Linked DNA regions of Homo sapiens. The protein of the gene in region 4 purifies or fractionates together with the protein of the main gene of each other region. This does not show direct contact. Each region holds a gene or a part of one and is shown on either strand. Other genes may lie near its edges.

Region 1 (3,991 bases), on a different chromosome or scaffold from region 4:
CACCATGCCTGGCTAATTTTTTTTGTACTTTTAGTAGAGAGGGGGTTTTGCCATGTTAGCCAGGATGGTCTTGATCTCCTGACCTTGTGATCCGCCCGTCTGGACCTCCCAAAGTGCTGGGATTACAGGCGTGTAAGTCAGTGTATTGTAAAAATAAAATGTAAGTTCACATTAGAATAATATTTAAGAAAAATCATTCAGTGGTATCTGAACTGGGTAGCCTAGTGTAAAAGATTTTTCCAGGAGTCCCTGGGGAAGACCTGATCCCACATCTTGGGGAAATAAAAAATTTGAAATATATATTTTCATGTTACCCAAAAGTTAGGGGTGTTTGAAAACTGTCTGAAATGACAAAGTAGAAGGGTTGGAACAGTTTGCAGTGGCCGAACGATGACCATGTGAGCATCGAAAATGAGCAATTGTCACTCACTGGAAGAAGCTGAATCTGTAATTATCCTCACAATTACATGATTTTATAAGACACATTAAAAAATCCTTAAATGCAAAAGCGGGGAGAGCCTAATAAGGAAGGCTAATGCTTACTAATTTTAACAAGAGGAGGACTGTGGGGTCTGCGGGAGTCCTACCCCTGACTTGGGGTGTATGTGGCAACGAGGCAGAAACTGCCTTCTGTCCTACCTAAGAGAAAGACAGGGAACTCCCACAGCCAGGATCTGCCAAAAAAGGTCAAGACTACCAGCAACATGGGCGAGGGGGCCTCTGGGGTCACGTTGAGTTAGTCGCTGCATAGAAAGAGGGCTCAAATCTAAAAAATGCAAGAGGGTAGGTCACCCAAGGGTGGGGAAGGTCTTGGCTGGAGGATGAAGGGGCCTCTTGTCTCTGGGGCGAGGCGATGTCAAGGGGAATGACAAACCAAACCAGTCCAAAGCAAGGGGACTCTGTGTCCTGGGTTCTCAGACAAGGTGACCGGGAGGGAGCCCACCAAGCTCAGGGAAAGGCCTGGCCTCCGTCATCCACCTGAGCTCTGCCTTCCCTTCAGCCTTAGCCTCAGCGTGGACCCGGGACTCCTGCATCCTCCCGTCCTGCCCCGCCTGGGCACACCACGGCCGAGAGCCTCCTGTTGGCATCAGCCTCTCCCCAGCACCGACTGTGCGCTCCCGCTCCCCCCTCCTCCCCACAACCCCGCCCCACACTACTGGCACTGCTGCCTGAGCCTTCCTGGAGTTACTTAATCCACCCCAGCCCCAGGCACTGAACCACGCGTGCAGACCCCTCGTCCTCAGTTCTGCGGAGACAGAGTCCCCACAGCATTTCTGCTCCTCCCTCAAGACTGCGGCAGAGCACAGCACCAGTAGACCCCACACAGTGAGTACCTGTAGGGCAAGTGCCTCTTTCGTTCTCTTAATAATAGAGTCAGGTCCCTTCTCCAAGGGAAGACCCTGCCTTGCAGCCCCAGCCTGGCCTGCCCCTTCTTGCAGGCCCGCTCCGAACCCTGGGTAAGACTCGTGACGAGGCTCCGGGTGGCCGAGCCCTTCCGAGAGTGCTGCGGTCGGCAGGGCTGGGCTGGCTCTCTGGGCTGAGGGGGAGGGGCTCCCACACCTGTGCGCTCCCGGAAGAGGGGACAGCGGCGGGGGCGCCGTGCGCACGGGGGCGAGGGGAGACGACTGCACCTGAGGGAGGCGCAGCCGCAACCGGGTGGGAGGCAGAGACACCCAGAAACAGAGACGGGGCGATACGAACAGACAAAGCCGGCTCGAGCGCGGCCCGAGCGGCGGCGCAGGGAGGCGGCAGCCTGGCGGAGCAGCCCCCACCGCGGCCGGCGCGCCCCCTCGCCACCCCTGCGCGCCAGCGCCGGCCCGCCCCTCCCGCTGGCCTCTGGCGGCTTAACCCTCGCCTGCCCGACCCCGCGGGGCCCCTGGAGCCGCGGTGGGTGGGTGCGGGCGCCGGGCCTCCCCCTCCCGGCCGCGGCGCGCGGCGCCGGGAGCTGACCGTGGTGCTGAGCGCGGCTCGCGCTCCGACGCGGTGCCCGAGCCTGTCGCGGCCGCGCCCTGCTGCACTGCGGGCCCCCAGCGGTAAGTCGCCAAGGCCCCGAGAGGCTGCGTTGGTCCTGCCCCGCGGATGTGGACCCCCGGGGAGGGCAAGGATTGGGGAATTTGGTGCATTCTCTGGCGCGATGGACGGGCTGAGGGCAGGAAGCAGGGTCGACACCCTCCACCCAGCGGTTCCCGGCGCAGTCAGGGGCCTGGGAGCGGTGACCCTTTTAGGTCTGGGCTAGGGAAGCGGAGAAACCCTCCGCCGGCGGATGCAGGAGCTGAGGGAGAGCCAATATCGCTGTGAGGCCCATCTCCTTGCCCCTGGGCAGGCCAGGACCGCCCAGAGGCGCCCTCCAAGGAGGTGGGCCAGGACCTTCCCTCCCCAGAGGGCCCTTTGTCTCCCCAGTGTGGGGGTTGGGTGGCTTGGTGGTGCTCTCACCGCAGATTCTATTTCTGTTTTATTCCCCATTCCCACCCCCACCCCAGAGCACGGTCGCTTTCCCTCCGCACAGTGGCCCTCACTCCAGCCCTCCCATGACAAGGCAGCCTACTACTGAGAACGCTATTGCCCCATAGCTCTACCGCCAGCCCAGTTTCCAGAGGTCCCTGGGCCTGCGCTTTTTTATCACCATACACTCCTTTGTATCACACTGCTGTGACTTTCCTGCATACCGGGGAAGGCATAGAAAATACCAAAACTATTAGCCAAACGTTTTTTTGTCTCAAGGCGTTTCTGTGGCATGTGTATTCCTCCAGGGTTTTTATTTTGCTCCATGAAATCAAACACCGGGACACTTTCAGGTTAAGAAAGGAAAAAAAAAGCCACGGAATTACCTTCTCAAAGGAAAAAGAAAAAGCTGGGCAGCTAAGCCTGAGTTGGTCATGTAGAAAAGCAACCAGTAGAATAACTTCATTTGCCCAATTTGCAATAAATCCATGTCTGTGTGTGCCGTGTAAAACACTGTGATGGGAGGTGCACAGACAGAGGAGTCTCTGCCACCACCTTCTCTCCCCTAAACCCTGCTTGGGCTCCTAACTCGCCTCTGTGTCTCCGCTGTCCATTTTCACCTGCATCTTTGAAAGTGAGAATTGGCCCGTCACTTGCCCTGGAAGGTTGGCTCCCTGTGGCTTGCAGATAAAAGCACGGCCCTCGCTGAGACCTCAGGCCGGGTGTGGTGTGTACAGCCCATCTCCAGGCCTCATCCCTCTGGCTTGCTGCTCTGGTCACTTGAGCTGCTTTCAGATCCTTAAATATTCTACTTCTCTTGCTCCTCGGGGCCTTTCTGAAGGGTGTTCTCTCTGCCTGGAATATGTGTCCAATGTCTTTTGCCTGGCTGTCCTCTTCTGTCTTTTAAGTTTGGTTTAAATATCACATCCCTGTAACAGAATTAATTAAGTAAATACATTGTGTGGTCCCTGTTCCCATGGAACTTGCAAGTTCGTCTTAGAGATGAAAGACTCAGCCCAGGGTCCTGGTGTCAATGCTGTCTTAAAAAATGATGCACATAGGCCGGGAGCGGTGGCTTACGCCTGTAATCCTGGTACTTTGGGAGGCCTAGGTGGGAGGATCACAAGGTCAAGAGATCAAGACCATCCTGGCTAACACGGTGAAACCCCGTCTCTACTAAAAGTACAAAAAAAATTAGCCGGGCATGGTGGCGGGTGCCTGTAGTCCCAGCTACTCAGGAGGCTGAGGCAGGAGAATGGTGTGAACCCGCGAGGTGGAGCTTGCAGTGAGCCAAGATCACGCCACTGCACTCCAGCCTGGGCGACAGAGCGAGATTCCATCAAAAAAACAAAACAAAACAAAAAACCCACCATCCTGGCCAACATGATGAAACCCCATCTCTACTAAAATTAAGAAAAAAAAAATTAACTGGGCGTGGTGGTGCGTGCCTGTAGTCCCAGCTATTCAGGAGGCTGAAGCAGGGGAATCGCTTGAACCCAGGAGACGGAGGTTGCAGTGAGCCTTGATCACACCACTGCACTCAAGCCTG
Region 2 (3,500 bases), on a different chromosome or scaffold from region 4:
GTTTGTATACATATATATGTATACATACACACACACATATACACACACATATATATATAATTTTACTGCCACCAGCACTAGATCCAGAAATCTTCCTACAAGTTTCCACTAGTCTAGTTTTTATTCTTCTCAAAAGCAAAATAAAACATTCTTAGATTCTACAAGTAGCAGGGAAAGACATCAGGAAATGGCTGTACAGGAAATGTAATTGATGATTCTCTCTTTACAATTGAAGTGGTCACAAGATTGGCTAGCAAACACAATCTATTAAATGAAAAAAAAGGTGACTTCTAAAATCTTTGGGGAATTTGAATACATTTGAAGCTTGTTGGTACCTTTGACATCTTACTGATTCTTTTTGAAACTCTTACCTTTTTCAAACAATTGTTTGCATTTGAAATTGGGAACTTTCATATCCAGTGATTGCTTTAATATTTGCTTTGTTTTTAACAGTGCCCTTAAAGATAGCCGTTTTCCCCCAATGACAAGGGATGAGCTGCCACGGCTTTTCTGCTCAGTGTCTCTGCTCACTAACTTTGAAGATGTCTGTGATTATTTGGACTGGGAGGTAAGATTATAGAAAAATTTTTAAAGAAAAATGAAGGTAACTCTTGAGGAGATGTTAAAAATTAGGCCCAGAAAATAACTCTTTCAGCCCATTCTCTATTGTAATGGAGGTCGAGAGTAATATGGATGAATAAACCTCACAACTGAACGAGATATAAGTAAATGAGTTTTTTAAAGGACAAAGTGCCACGTGTTGTTATAATCCCCAAACTGAATTTGGTTTTCATTTTTCTCCTACTACCTCACCAAAGCACCTCATAAAAGCTGTTAATAAGTAATAAGAAGGACTGACTGGAATTTATTTCTCCTCTTACTTTCATTCTGGTGCACTCTGGTATAACCGCCACTAAGTAACTAGTTGGTCAGAGGATACATCTCAGAAACAAGAAGAAATATTTAGGATAATACACCATTTGGGGGAATCAGCTTGTGATAACAACAAGGTATTGATTAACTAGAGTTAAATAATGTGAATTCATTCTTGGCTACCTTAGTTTATACACTTAAACACTCTAACAAATAATACTAAGGTTATTTCTAGGGTATCTCTGTGCATTGCTATTGTTAGAGTAGCTTATATTGATCATATTTTTATTCTTCTTTAGTACATGGGGTTGGCTAACATTGTTAGTGAAGTTCAAAGGTTCTCACCATGATTTGCTTTGGTGGCTGGGAGGAGATGTTGAGTGTAGGTCTATTGGGTCTATGAAATTTTACACACAAGCATGCCCATATTACTGAATGCCTGTTTTATTCCAGGCAATGTGCTCCATGTATAAAAGTGGTAAGATTTGGTTCCCACCATGAAGCATGTCATAATTTAGTGGCGAGTAAATGTGTATAGAAAGTATGAAGAAATAAGTGCTATGAGAATGAAACAATGGGAACTCAGTGATAAACATAACATTCTCTCTCACACATACACTCATAAATGGCATTATTGTATCCTTATGACAGATTTTAATTCTTCTGCTGTTTTAGAAGGACCATCCCCCATAGTAACTGAACTATTCTGCCTTGGAGACAGATCACTGTCTTCACAGTTTATTAGACTTGAATTTAATTTTGGCTTTGCCCTGATTCCTTGTGAGACTTTGAACAATTTACTTACTCCACTGCAATTCAGTTTTCCAATATACAGAATAAGACATTTATAAGGTTCTTCATTTGAAAAAAAACTCTATGATATAAATTATTGTTGTTATACCAGAGCTATTTAAAAAGTTTTAGGGGGTGGGGTGAAAAAAAACTTTTCTACAGAGAGTACAATGCTAGAGTCCCCTCTGGGTTTTGTGCTAAGATTTTCTGGAGCATTATCAGAATATGAACACATCTTAGGATTTTTGCAAAGGAAGAAATAAAATAAATTTATACTGTTGTTCCTACCAAAGTTGGAATGTAGAAAACCTTTTGTAAACTTGAAATTTCTGATTTATTATTTGCTATAAGTTTGTTGTTCTTACTTGATTTTTCTTAAAGAAAAGTCTACAAATATTATGGAAATATTCCTTAGTACTTTATTTTTAAACAGCCCCAAATCATGTTCCCTACTTATTAACATATATTATAGTCTGGGTGGTTCTTTTACTGTTTTAAGGCTGCTGTTTCCTCTTCCGCAGCCAGATTTACTTTTGCTTTCTGGATTGCAGGGTGTTGTGTATGTAGTAGTGGGGATGGGAGTGATTATATGGGAAAAGCCTGAGATCCAAGGGGGATGACCAAGCTACAAGAACACTTCTACTCTTGCAGCTACTGAGTTGGAAGTACAGTTCTGGCATGTGTGTTTCTGTGTGTGTGCATGTGTGTGTGTCACAAACATGAACATACTAGTATTACATAAATGTGTGTGCATGTGTTTTGGGGGAAGGAAAAAGGGGAGAATACAACAGCTGTTACATAGGCATGGTTAAGCACCGAGTACATCATCATCATCTTTAGCCCAGTTAAAGCACTATCTACAGCTAAAATTAACCTTGATATTATTGGACTATTATGTCCAAAAGATACATCAGCTTTCTGTTTGTTAGGAGAGTGGGATGTAAAGCCCTTAAGAAGTAGTACTGTGTACTCCACTATATACTCTTTCAAGGCATATTTATCCTCTTTGGTCACCATCTGCCAGCCTGAATTTCCAGAAGATTCTATATTGTTCCTACTTGGTATTGTGTATTTAATATATTTTAGGGGGCTTAAATATTAATTTCTATTAAGTATTAGTTCCCTATTGAAGCAAAAAATACACTTTTTTTTTTTTTCGAGACAGAGTCTCGCTCAGTCGCCCAGGCTGGACTGCAGTGGCGTGATCTCAGTACACTGCAAGCTCCGCCTCCTGGGTTCACGCCATTCTCCTGCCTCAGCCTCCTGAGTAGCTGGGACTACAGGCGCCCACCACTATGACTGGCTAATTTTTTGTATTTTTAGTAGAGATGGGGTTTCACCGTGTTATCCAGGATGGTCTCGATCTCCTGACCTCGTGATCCACCCACCTCGGCCTCCCAAAGTGCTGGGATTACAGGCGTGAGCCACCGTGCCTGGCCCCCATTTTTTTTTTTTACTTTTAATATACAAGTATTTGAAAGTGAATTAGTTACTGTTAGAATGGCTATGCTAAGAGGAAAAGCCCATCCTTTTCAGTTAGTTCATCATTGTTTCAGGTATTTGGCAGAAGAGAAATTTGTATACAACGAATAAGGGTGGAAATTATATTTTTAAGTACAAGAATGTGATTTGGTCTTAAAAAAATATGTACCTTACTCAGTGATTGAAAATGGAGTAATAGTATTGTGGGAATGATATTCTAAGGGTTATCCTTAATGATTCTGAAAAAGCATTACTAAACACAGAATGCCAAAATGGAATTAAAGGCATTAAAAAATTATACGTTGACACAATTTCACTTCTAGGTATATACCCAAAAGAATTGAAGTGTTGAA
Region 3 (3,500 bases), on a different chromosome or scaffold from region 4:
TCACTAGGAGTAGATTCCATCTCAAGAAGCCACTTTCTGTCCAGGCGTAATGGGGTCACGCTTATAATCCCAGCAGTTTGGGAGGCTGAGGCAGGAGGATTGCTTGCGCCAAGGAATTCAAGAACAGCGTGGGCAACATGGCAAAATCCCATTAAAAAAATATAGAGGTTAGCCGGTTGTGGTGATTTGGGAAGCTGAAGCAGGGAGAGTGCTTGAGCCGGGGAGGGGAGGTCAGGGCTGCAGTGAGCTGTGGCAGTGCAGACCAGCCTGGGCAACAGAGCAAGACCCTGTCTTAAAAAAAAAAAAAGGCCACTTTGTTTCCTCATCCATAAGAAGCAACTTTTCATCTGTTCAAGTTTTAGCTCTGCTTCTAATTGTAGTTCTCTTGCTCTTTCCGTCACATCTACAGTTACTTCCTCCACTGAAGTCTTAAACCCCTCAAAGTCATCCATGAGGGCTGGAATCAGCTTCTTCCAAATTCCTGTTAATGTTGATATTTTGACCTCCTCCCATGAATCATCAGTGTTCTTAATGGCATCTAGAATGATGAATCCTTTCCAGAAGGTTTTCAATTTACTTTGCTCAGATCTGTCAGAAGAATCTGATCACTGTCTATGGTAGTTATAGCCTTACAAAATGTATTTCGTTTGTTTTTCTTTTTTTAGTTTCACAGTGCGTATAAAGTTATGTTTACAATATACTGTAGTCTGTTAAGTGTGCAATGACATTCTAAAAAAGCAATATATATATATATATATATATCAATTAAAAATTATTTGTTGGCCGGGCACGGTGGCTCACGCCTGTAATCCCAGCACTTTGGGAGGCCGAGGCGGGCAGATCACGAGGTCAGGAGATCAAGACCATCCTGGCTAACAGGATGAAACCCCGTCTTTACTAAAAATACAAAACAAACAAACAAACAAAAAAAACCACTAGCCGGGCATGGTGGCGGGTGCCTGTAGTCCCAGCTACTCGGGAGGCTGAGGCAGGAGAATGGCGTGAACCCGGGAGGTGGAGCTTGCGGTGAGCAGAGATGGCGCCACTGCACTCCAGTCTGGGTGACAGAGCGAGACTCCATCTCAAAAAAAAAAAAAAAAATTATTTGTTGCCAAAAAAATGCTAGAAGAACATCTGAGCCTGGCTCAGGCTAGCCTAATTTTTTTATTTTTATTTCTATTTTTAGAGTTAGCATCTCAATGTGTTGCTCAGGCTGGTTGCAAACTCTTTGCCTCAGATGGTCCTCCCACTTTGGCCTCCCAAAATGTTGAGATTACAGGCATGAGCCACTGTCCTGGCTGTATTTCTTAAATTAGGAAATGCATCCAAGTTGGAAAAGTCAAAATACCCTATTCCCTGATGACATGATCTCTGTCATATTTAGAAAAACCTAAGGATGCCACCAAAAACCTCTTGAATTTGACAAATAATCCAGTAAAGTGTCAATACAAAATCAGTGTACAAAAATGAGGAGCATTTCTATACACCAATGACGATCCAACTGAAAACTAAATCAAGAAAGCAATCTTCAAAAAAAGAAAAAATCCACCTAGAAATGTATTTAACCAAGGAGGTAACAGATCTCTATAAGGAGAACTACAAAGTCCTGATGTAAGAAATTCTAGATGACACAGACAAACGGAAAAACATCCCATACTCGTTGATTGGAAGAATCAGTTTTGTCAAAGTGACCATACAACCTGATATGGGTTGTTTATTTGTCTCCTCCAAGTCTCATGTTGAAATGCAATCCCCAGTGTTGGAAGTGGGGCCTGGTGGGAGGTGACTGGATCATGGGGGTGGGTGCCTCATGAATGGCTTAGCAGCGTCCCCTTGATGATGAGCAAGTTCATGTGAGATCTGGTTGTTTAAAAATGTGTGGCATCTCTCCACTCTCTCACTTGCTCCTGCTCTTGCCAAGTGAGGTCCTTGCTCCCACTTTGCCTTATGTCATGAGACCTCACCAGAGGCCAAGCAGGTGCCAGCACCATGCTTCCAGTCCAGCTTGCTGAACCGTGAGCCAATTAAACCTCTCTTCTTTATAAATTACCAAGCCTGAGGTTTTTCTTAAGAGCAATGCAAGAATGGCCTAATACACTACTCAAAGCAATCTGCAGATTGAAGGCAACCCCTATCAATATACCGACATCTGCTGGGTAGAGTGGCTCATGCCTGTAATCCCAGCACTTGGGGAGGCCAAGGCAGGCGGATCACCTGAGGTCAGGAGTTTAAGACCAGCCTGACCAACATGGTGAAACCCTGTCTCTACTAAAAATACAAAAATTAGTGGGACGAGGTGCCAGTAGTCCCAGATACTTGGGAGGCTGAGGCAGGAGAACTGCTTGAACCCAAGAGATGGAGGCTGCAGTAAGCCAAGATCGTGCTGCTGCACTTCATCCTGGGCAATAGAGTGAGTCAATTTGTAAGAAAACACATTATTATCTGTGAAGCACAATGAAAAGTGAAATAAAACAAGGTATACCTCTACTGAAAGAAGAAAACTATCAAACTAGAATTCTAGATCCTGGAACTATGTATTTCAAAAATAAAGGAGAAATAAACACTTCCAGATATCTTTTTTTAAAAAACACTATGAAGCAGAATAAAATGAAGCTCAATAAAATGAGATATACTTGTATATTATTTTCAGCTGAACTCTTTGAAACTAAGCTATGGACATTATGACATTTTACCTCTCAATATGTCACATGCATCTCCTAAAGTTAAGGACATTTTCTTACATAGCCAAAATACCATTATTGTTACTTTTCTTAGGTGCGATACTTCTTTCATATACTCTAATATATATCCATATTTACATCTCATTCGTACTGAATTGTCATTTGTGGTTTGTACACCCATCCCCACCAAATCAGGATTTCATCAAAGTTTATTCATTGCATTTAGTTGTTAAGGCTTTTTGATCTCTTATAGTCTACAGCAGTCTCACCTCTTACACCCTTTAAAAATGACAATGATTTTTTTTAAGAGATCAAGACAGTTGTCTTATAAAGTGACTCATATTCTCGATTTGTCAGATTCCACCCCCCTCCCCCCGTCATAGCATTGTTTAGCTTGTTCCTGTATTCCCCCATACCAGTTGTTAAGTGTAAACTAGATTTAAAGGGTCGATTAGTTTTAATTTCAACATTTTGGACAAGAATACCTAATAAGTGATTTAATATATTTTATATGCCTCCCATTAGGAGACGTACACTGTGCAGTCCCATTATTTGTGATACTAAGTTTGATTGCTTGGTTGAGAGGAGTAAGGTGAGGTATATTTTTCTCACTGCAGTCAGCAAGTAATCTGTGGCATGATAAATTAGCACTGTAATGCTAGCCTGTTCTCCAGTGATCTTTTACCTAATAGTTGTGGTATCTTTTGCTGATCCTTGTCAGGCTAACTTTTAAATTTCAGTGTTAATAAATGTTTGTTGGTCTATAGATGGAAACAAATCACAGGAATTAAAAAATATCCAGCTAGGTTAATCAGAATC
Region 4 (3,500 bases):
AGAGGCAGTCTCTGCCTTTAAGGAGTTTGCGCTTGTTGGAGTCACCAAACACACACAAAAAGTTACAGGGCCATAAACTTTTTAAGCCAGAAGGGACCCCTGTAATCATCACAACCACCCAAGGAGGTAACTTAGCACCATGTGGGCCAAAGGCCTTGTCAGACTTGGCCAGAGGAGCCGGACCACAGCTGTGCCCTGGATCCTGTCCGACTGCATCAAGTCAGATCTTAGAAATATGCTGTAGGCATAGAACTGACCAGAAGGTGCAGACCAGGAGCACTGCACATGAACCCCTCAACACTTTTGACCAAGTGACTTGTGACCGTCACTTGGACACTCTGACCCTGTTCTCATATCTGTAGAGGGCAAGAAGTCTCACGACCTCCTGGGATTTTTTTGGTGAAAATTAAATGAGAACGGTAAGATCTTCCAGGCCTTCCTCCTGGTCCATGTGTCCTCAATCCGGAATTCCCCAACACCAAGGGCAGAGAGGAGTGGTGAGAGTAAAAAGAACAGTTCATTCTTCTGGAGAAGAGAAGGTTGATTCAGTGAAAAAGGCCTCGTAGTTGAGAAGGGGGACTCTCTGTTCAGCATCCCCACTAAAGGAAGAACAAGGGGAAATAGACTTCAAAAGTTAGAGAGAAAAAAATACTTCTAAATGGTCAGAGGAAATCCATAAAGTAGGTGGGGACAGGCTGTGAAATCACCCAAGTCTTTAAAACAGGCCAAAGTGCCCAGCCATCTGGGTGCGTAAGTAAGGCGTGGATACTGCCTTGAAGCAGGATGCACACGATGACTTCCTTGGGGCCTTTTCCTGTTGTTAGGAATCCAGTGATGAGGCCACATTCTGTAAACTCTCAGTAGGGACCAGAAGTCAGAGGCTGGGCACTGCTGCCGGCTTGGCTGCAGTGCTCACTGCTGGGCTGAGTCACAACCCCTCCAGAGGTGGGCACCCACCTGAAGAGCAGGCAGTTGGATCATGGCCTCTGCACCAAGTTCTGAGGTCCTCCAAATGAACCAACAAAGGCACAGTAATTTGGGGGAAATCACAGGAAAATTCCAAGAAAAAACCGAGTGCCAACAAAAACAGAGAGCCCCAGCCAGGCACGGTGACCCACGCCTATAATCCCAGCACTTTGGGAGGCCGAGATGGGTGGATCACCTGAGGTCGGGAGTTCAAGACCAGCCTGACCAACATGGAGAAACCCCGTCTCTACTAAAAATACAAAACTAGCCGGGCGTGGTGGCGCGTGCTTGTAATCCCAGCTACTCGGGAGGCTGAGGCAGGAGAATCGCTTGAACCCGGGAGGCAAAGGTTGTGGTGAGCAGAGATCACACCATTGCACTCCAGCCTAGGCAACAAGAATGAAACTCCATCTCAAAAAAAACAAAAACAAAAACAAAAAACCAGAGAGCTCCCATTTTCTCAACTGCCCTAATTTCCTTCATCATCTTTATCATGATCTATAATGACTGGACACTGGTGTTTCCATGTTGAACACCTGTCCTGTGAAACCAGACTGTAAGCTCCATGAGGGACAGCCCTGTCCTCACACGAATCTCCGACGCTGAAAGTAGTGAGTGGCACGTGGCAGTGACTGAAAACCTTGCTGACTCTCCTTAAAGGACCTAAGACCATTAGATGGGTCACTGGAAAAGTTTTTTAGTTTAACAGGCATGGTGCAACACCAAAAAAGCCAAAACAGCCTTAAATAGCATTCAAACACTCTTTCTTCCATGCCTTCAGTCCTGCTATCTTGGTGGTATTAACACATCAACCATGTCTCCACTGTAAGAGCTATACTTCAACCTCTGTGGGGAGAAAATGACTCAATAGAAAATTCCTTCCTCCCAGCAAAAAAGACACCTAACTCAAACCCTATGTGTGCTCACACGGCTTTGCACTCGTTGTTTAACACATGGATCCCAAAATAAACTTGTCTCCCTTCACTTCCAACATAGAGGACTACTGTGTGACCAGTAATTAAAAATGGAATATACTGCTCTTAACTCAGTTGACTGCAATAAAGTACTTGGATTTTCCCACAATCATAACAAGACAGGGCAGAGAAAGGAGGCAGGGTTGTGGGGAGAGGCAGAGACTCGGTATTTCAGAACCCAGACCTTTGTCAAAAGTGCCACATAATTTTAAGAAAACGGAGTGGGGCTGTTTTCTTGTGATTACTTAAAAAAAAAGGCGGGGGGGGGGGGAGGAAACTCAAACCACGCTACAGTAATTGTACCCAGATGCTTTATTTCCTCAGGACTGTTGTGCTTCCAGTTGCTGCAAGGATTTTAAATTCCTACACAGAGTAGAGGCCTATGCTGCAGCTTCTGCATCAGCCTCACATCCACAGACCTGGTTTGCAACCTCAGTAAGCAAAGGGTTTTCAGCCTGCAGGTGGCAGAGACCCCCGGAACCTTCAGGGAAAGGAGGTGCCGGCTGCTTTCTGTTTTCCCCTATCCTGTTCTTATCTCCTCTTAATGAGATGCTGTGGCCCTGCCCCTCCCCATAAACCAGAGGGGAGCCTCCAGGCAGGGAGCACAGAACTGACCTGACAGAACTGACCATAGGGGTCCTCCTCCTTCTCCTCCTCTTCCTCTTCCTCCTCCTCCTCCTCACGTTCCCTTCTCAAAACAATGCAACTTCAAAAGTATATGCTTCTAAGTCTGTGCGTTCAGGGCTTTCCAAGAGCCCTCTGAAAATTTACTCACAAGGTCACTGCCCAAAAGGCAATACCCTCTTCAACAAGCATTTTCTAAGGCAAGATCAAGGGACACTCGGCAAGGGGCCAGGACTCCAACAGCACTGGGCAACGGGACCTTTTGAAAACAGGCAAACTTTTACAAGTGGATCTTAGCAAACTGCCCTCACCAGAGCTTCCATCCTCTAATTGTGGACTACTGCTTCCAGCATATCTTTCCTATGGCATCATTTTCTTTGATAATTGAAGCCAAGCTTGATTCCAATGGCTCCGCACAAAAACGGGCCTCATCAGCGAGTTCTTTCAGAGAACTGGAAGCAGCACTCGGAGCCAGCAGAGGGCCATCTGCTGGGCCCGACTTCTTTTAAGGGAGGCCAGAGCAGAGGGCCCAATGGGAGGCAGATGAGCCCCACCTTGGGCAGGACACACAAGGGCCCGTGCAGAAAGGCGAGGACACAGGGAGGGCTCTGTGCACCCAGCACCTTATTCTCCTCCCCAAAATAAATGCTGGGCCCAGTGCCCAATCCCACAACCCCCCTTCGCACACACCTCGACACTGTGCGTGTGTGTGTCTGTGTGCCGGGGATTTTACACGTGCTCCTACCAACAAGTTGCTTTTGCTCTAGGTTATTTATAGCCATTGTCAAAAGCCCAGGCATCCCCCTCAACCACTCAGACCAGAGTCCTGCCCTCTGAGGATAATTCCTGCTCTTCCGCCCCAACTATTTATATTAAACCTGACACCAAATCAGTAAGGACACAAACAAGTCGTTAAAAACGAGGCTCCTTTGAGTG

Evidence for each region.
Region 1: the proteins of AXIN2 (region 4) and AMER3 purify together in Homo sapiens (co-immunoprecipitation; one study listed by IntAct). This does not show direct contact.
Region 2: the proteins of AXIN2 (region 4) and AMMECR1 purify together in Homo sapiens (co-immunoprecipitation; one study listed by IntAct). This does not show direct contact.
Region 3: the proteins of AXIN2 (region 4) and MAP3K2 purify together in Homo sapiens (affinity purification with western blotting, with the first as the bait; one study listed by BioGRID). This does not show direct contact.

What each region holds. Positions count from the first base shown.
Region 1 is NC_000002.12:130,754,349-130,758,339, forward strand, and holds the start of AMER3 (APC membrane recruitment protein 3), read left to right. Parts: upstream 1-1,191; 5' UTR 1,192-1,326; exon of another isoform or gene 1,327-1,534; intron 1,535-1,995; exon of another isoform or gene 1,996-2,033; intron 2,034-3,991. UniProt on the Homo sapiens protein: Regulator of the canonical Wnt signaling pathway. Acts by specifically binding phosphatidylinositol 4,5-bisphosphate (PtdIns(4,5)P2), translocating to the cell membrane.
Region 2 is NC_000023.11:110,213,586-110,217,085, reverse strand, and holds part of AMMECR1 (nuclear protein AMMECR1), read left to right. Parts: intron 1-453; coding exon 454-568; intron 569-3,500.
Region 3 is NC_000002.12:127,381,476-127,384,975, reverse strand, and holds part of MAP3K2 (mitogen-activated protein kinase kinase kinase 2), read left to right. Parts: intron 1-3,500. UniProt on the Homo sapiens protein: Component of a protein kinase signal transduction cascade. Regulates the JNK and ERK5 pathways by phosphorylating and activating MAP2K5 and MAP2K7. Plays a role in caveolae kiss-and-run dynamics.
Region 4 is NC_000017.11:65,551,649-65,555,148, forward strand, and holds part of AXIN2 (axin-2), read right to left. Parts: intron 1-3,500. UniProt on the Homo sapiens protein: Inhibitor of the Wnt signaling pathway. Down-regulates beta-catenin. Probably facilitate the phosphorylation of beta-catenin and APC by GSK3B.